2 separate regions of the Homo sapiens genome follow, and region 1 is linked to region 2. The links come from fine-mapping of genetic effects on gene expression. Tissue or cell type: whole blood. Region 2 holds a variant in brackets; the other region holds the start of a gene. All regions are shown on one strand. Distances are from middle to middle.

The links. PIP is the estimated chance that this variant, and not a neighbour inherited with it, causes the effect.
Region 1: C1orf226 starts here. The variant in region 2 is fine-mapped to the expression of C1orf226 in whole blood (GTEx, PIP 0.97).

Annotation. Positions count from the first base shown.
Region 1 is chr1:162,380,402-162,383,087 of GRCh38, forward strand. It overlaps C1orf226 (chromosome 1 open reading frame 226), which reads left to right and starts at 1,327. Exons shown (of 2, transcript NM_001085375.2): 1 at 1,327-1,817. The coding sequence starts at 1,501. RefSeq lists a silencer at 1,978-2,272.
Region 2 is chr1:162,254,255-162,256,940 of GRCh38, forward strand. All of the region lies in intron 2 of NOS1AP (nitric oxide synthase 1 adaptor protein), which reads left to right. Among named protein-coding and RNA genes, the nearest start is that of MIR556, 87 kb to the right of the region's middle. The variant T/A (reference allele first, on the strand shown) is at 1,101.

The DNA of each region.
Region 1 (2,686 bases), 130 kb after region 2:
GAAACCACAAGAAAGGTTTTCACTGGCCCGGGATACAGCAGTGCAGGGCAGAAAGAACTGCTTTACACAAAAATTCAGCAGAAGAAAAAGTACACCCTAACCCCAGTTACTCTTAGAAGAGGCTCAGTGAAAATAGACACTTAGCAGAGGTGTTCACAAGGAAAGGAGCCTAGTCATCAAATGATCGAGCGATCTCCTTTCCTCAGACTGACAACATATCTGGGGTAGTTGGTGTAGACAGAAACCTTGACCCAGATTCCAAGGCCTCAGAGTGGGTCTGGCTGCCTGATGACTGAGCTGGATTTCCAGATAGGGAGAGGATGGCCAAGTGTGAGTGTGTGGACAGCATGGCTTAGAGCCTGGAGCTCCAGTCATTTCAATAACAAACCTTTAAGCTACCACCTTGGCCACCACAATTTTCTATCTACAAAATGGGTTTTGGCGATTCAAGATCTGTATTGAGCACAGCTAGGTACCAAACCCAGGCTAGGTGTTGAAAATACAAAGATGAATGAGGCATGCTCTCTGCCTTGCAAATCTTTACAACCTAATGGGTTTATACCCAGCTCTTTGAGTTAATTTTTCAAGCCAAAGAGGATCCCTACAAGAAGGACCATGTACCAGGCATATATAGGCAGCTGTTCCATGATCTATAGCAGGGCAAAGTTGTGGACAGAGCCCTGAGCTGTGGGTTAGAAGGCCTGAGTTCTAGCTCCAGCCCTGCTAGTATTTAGCTGTGTGACCTCAGGCACGGCACTGCATTACGCGGAGTCCTGCAGGCTTCATCTGTAGGTAGATATCCTTCCATGTACCACCTCCCTAGGTGGTTGTAAGGATTAAGTAAGCTGATGTTCATTGGGATCCTCGTGCTTCACTGGCACCGAGTTCCTATCCATTTGGTACGAACTGATTCTGAACCACCACTTAGCACCTCTGCAAGAGCTGGCCCACTCGCTCAAGGCCCACCTCTGTAGACCTGAGGAGCTGCTGCCCCATTTTTTGTGGAGAATATGTGCTATACTCATGGCCTTCAGTGGGGAGCTTCTAACACCAAGCCTCATCCATGCCATCCCTCCACCAGCTTCCAACCCACTGAGAGCTCAGCACGTGCTTACGGTGATGTAAAAATGTCATGTTTCATTGCTTCATCCTCATTTTTTCTTTACTCCAAAGGGCGTGGTGACTCCAAGGTAAAGGGGCCAAGCCCATGAGTCAAGGAGGCAGGTTTACAGGAACAACTTTATTTTTTTATGGCTAGCATTAGTCACTGATTAACTTGGGTGGGGCAGAGCTAGAATTTCTAGTTCCTGTCCCATCAAGAAAACTACACTGGAAAGTTCAAGAGTGTCTTTGCTGGCTCTTTCTTGAATATTTCCAAAGCCTTGGAAGTTACAGGTTTTGGGTGTGGGATAAGGAAAAACTGAATGATAGAGCACAGGTACCGCTCCCCTTTCCTCATCATGCCTCTCTGTCGCCTCTTTGTTCATAGTTGACCACGGCATGTTTGAGAATTTGAACACAGCCCTCACTCCAAAGCTCCAGGCCAGCCGCTCCTTCCCCCACTTGTCCAAGCCCGTGGCCCCCGGCTCTGCCCCTCTGGGCTCTGGTGAGCCTGGGGGGCCAGGACTCTGGGTGGGCAGCAGCCAGCACCTCAAGAACCTGGGCAAAGCCATGGGGGCCAAAGTGAATGACTTCCTGAGGAGAAAGGAGCCCTCCAGCCTGGGCAGTGTGGGTGTGACAGAGATCAACAAGACTGCAGGAGCACAGCTGGCCAGTGGGACTGACGCGGCTCCAGAGGCTTGGCTAGAGGATGAAAGGTGAGCCCCTCACCCGCCCAACATCCATGCCCCTCTGTGGACCCACTTGAAAAGGTACAGGGACAAACTGCAGTGTCTGCACAGGAGAACAGCCCCAAGGGAGGGGTGTGAGATTGTCCTGTACTGAAAAGCTGCAGGATCAGGCCACGTTCTCGGGAGCTGGCTTCACCTTCTGCAGCCACAGCTGAAGGTTGCTGAGTGCCCACCATGTCCTCGGCTCTGTGCTGCTGAAGGTTGCTGAGTGCACACCATGTCCTCAGCTCTGTGCTGCAGGCTATAGTTGCATCATTTTGTCTAACCCTCCCAGCAGCCCTGGGAGGTAGATGATATTTCCATCCTGCAGATAACTCACGTTCAGACAGACAAAGTAAATAGCTTGAGGTCACAAAGATAGTACTTGGCAGAGCTGGATTTGAACCCAGCTATTGCCCAGAAGGTCCCCAGGTAGATTCTGATGCCCGGCCATAGCTGAGAAGCGCTGCCGTAGACTGTTGCTTGTGGAGAAGCCTGCACCTGTCACAGCCCACTAGGGCACAGTGGGAGAAGCCCCCTGTAGCAGCCCTCCTGTTCTTCCCCCTCCTACCAACAGGCTCTTTCCAGGCCTTGTTTTAAACACCTGTGCATCTGAGGTGGGAATGCCCTCACATTCCCTGTTTTAAACACAGGACTTACTGCCTGGGTTCTGATTTGACAAGCTTCACCAGCGGTCTCTATCCTGTCTTCTAGAGGCCAGCACTTTGTGCTGCTCTGAACACTGAGTAAGCATGGACCAGGCCAAAAGCTACTGTTATGCTGAAATTGCTAAGGCCTATGTGCCAAACCAAGAACCAGAGCCCAAGGAGTAGAGCAGTTATTGGGTGGGGTGGGTT
Region 2 (2,686 bases):
GGCCTTCTTCTTGTATCAGGGGCTATAGTTTATAGAACACAGGCAAAGAGCTGGGATTTCTGGTGACCAGGAGCAGTTTAGGAGGATGCTGTTGGATGGGACTGACATGAACCATTGTGGGTGAATGTGCAAACGTGAGTGTTACCACTGTCCCATGTGACTAACCCTCCCCAGCAGGGGCCAGTGGTTTTAAAGGGCAAAGCCATGGGCCTGCTAGATGATGATGGAGCACGAGAGACATGGAATTCAGAGCTAAAGCTGGCAAGCTGGCTCCTCCACCACTTTGCTGGCAAACATGTTGGCCATTTTAGGGTAAGGAGTGGGAGGCCTTGAGAATCTCATGGATGTGTTTTCTACAGTAGCTAGCGTGTCACAAGAGGATGCGACTGGTGAATGTGTACAAAGGAGAAGGGACATGAGGAAAGTGTGCTCTAAATTAACTACCACAATACTTTATAGTATGCCATAGTTTATAGCATATTACAAATTATACTCTAACTGTAGATCACTATAAGCTGGGAACAGGGCAATGCATTTTACCAGTACAATCTGTGGTATGGGTGGTGTTATCCTCATATTGCAGATAAGAAAGATTGAGGCTTAGATGTTTAAGTGACTTCTTGGCACTCACACAGCTGGTAGATTCCTTATCTGGGATTTAGATTTAGATCTTTCTCCAAGTCCATATTCTTTCTATTATTCCTTCTTCCTCTCTAAAGAGGCTCTTTGTGGTCCATTTCAGTTTGGACGTTCTATGATGTTACCAAATATTTTCTTCAAAAGGTCTTTCAAGAAGCAGTTAGAGCTCCAGGAATAGTACAGCTTGAATGTGCTCATCAGTTAAACACATTCACATCTCCCTGGGGCTGCGGAGTCAGGAGAGTTAATTAGCATCTGTCAGGCAGTTCTAAAGTACTTACAAGGGCTCACAGATGACCTTGAGGAACATTTTATTTTGAGGTGGCTCCTAGAGTTTGTTTTATAGATTGGTCACTTTCCACCCCCCTCACTCCAAACTGGGAGCTTTTTATTACAACAGGTCTTTCTCCAGAAGCTGCATCTTTGCTGCAATTTCCTGTTTCAGCTGGCCCTGGCCAAAC[T/A]GAATTCAGTGTCCTAGACTCTTCCCCAAACAGTGTTCTCCTCTCTTGTGGCTCCTTTTACTGTTTCAGGTCAGGAGACCCAGACAGTTGGCCCAAGGTAGGGATTTCAGATGCATAGGTTATTTGCTGCTGCTGATTTTTTTTTTTTTTTTTTTTTTTTTTTTTTTTTTTGGTAAGATAGGTAATGCATTGCTCTGAGCTATCCACATTCTCCAATTTCCTCTCTCCAGACTTTCCACTGCTATGTGTAAGATGCTGATCAGGGCAGGCATCTCAGCCAAAATGAGAGCTGTAATCGATGGCCATGGAACCAGCAAGGTCAAATGGATCCTTTAAAGAAAGACCTCTGTAGCATTGTGAACTCACTGGCAAAATCTAGTCTCACAAACAAGAGAAACGTTGGTGAGGGCAGGGGTGGAAAAAAACTATGCCAGTGATTATTTTCTGCTTAAGCACTAACCCAGTCTTTATGGGTAGGAATGAGGGAAATAAAAATTGGGTAAATTGATGCTGGGTGCGGTGGCTTACGCCTGTAATCCCAGCACTTTGGGAGGCTGAGGCAGCAGATCACCTGGGGTCAGGAGTTTGAGACCAGTCTGGCTAACATGGTGAAACCCCATCTCTACTAAAAATAGAAAAATTAGCCAGGTGTGGTGGCAGGTGCCTGTAATCCCAGCTACTGGGGAGACTGAGGCAGGAGAATTGCTTGAATCCACAAGACGGAGGTTGCATTGAGCCAAGATCGCGCCACTGCATTCCAGCCTGGGCAACAGAGTGAGACTCTGTCTCAAGAAGAAAAGAAAAAAAAAAAGAATTGGCTAAATTGGAATAGAGGTAAGCAGACAGGGGACAGATAGCATCCTCAGCTCTCCCCGTAGTCCAGCCTATGAGAATACATCTGGCATTATTACAGAGTGTCTGAATGATTATTTTGCTCTTCTGTCATCTGATGTGTTGAAAAACACTCCTGCAATTGTTTTCCTTACATTGGCTTCTGGGCTGAACTTAATCTTCTAATGGATTTTACTCCCTTTCCAAAAGGTCTTTGTAACAATCTAACTCCTTGTGAGTCCTTGGGATTTTCCCTTGTTGGCCAATCCCCGCACCGATTGTGGACACTGTTTAATTTACTGTCTCCTTTCAGACTGCCTGTGAAGATTAACTGTCCTTGAACAACAGCATCACTCATTGTACTTGGCCACATTTGCTTCACCTTTCTCAACTGCACTGTTTTCCTTCCTTGTCTCTTAGGCACACACACATACACAAATCCATGTAATTTGTTAATTCCCCCTCTCATAGATACACACACACAAATGCGCGTATGTACATTAACACTCAAATGTGTAGCATATATGAAGTAACGGGGTCTCCTATCTCTTAAGAGCAGAGTAGTTGATGTTGCAAATGTCATTTCTCATGAAGTCTTAGGATCTGAGTTTTGAAATGCCAGGGACGCCTTTTTTTTGTTTATTTCTGGTCATCTTGAACCAGATCCCAGAGTTGCTTGTGAATGTGTCCCTCATTAAGAAATCACTTCTTTGAGATGATCTCTTAGTGATTCCAGACCCTTTAATCATTTAATA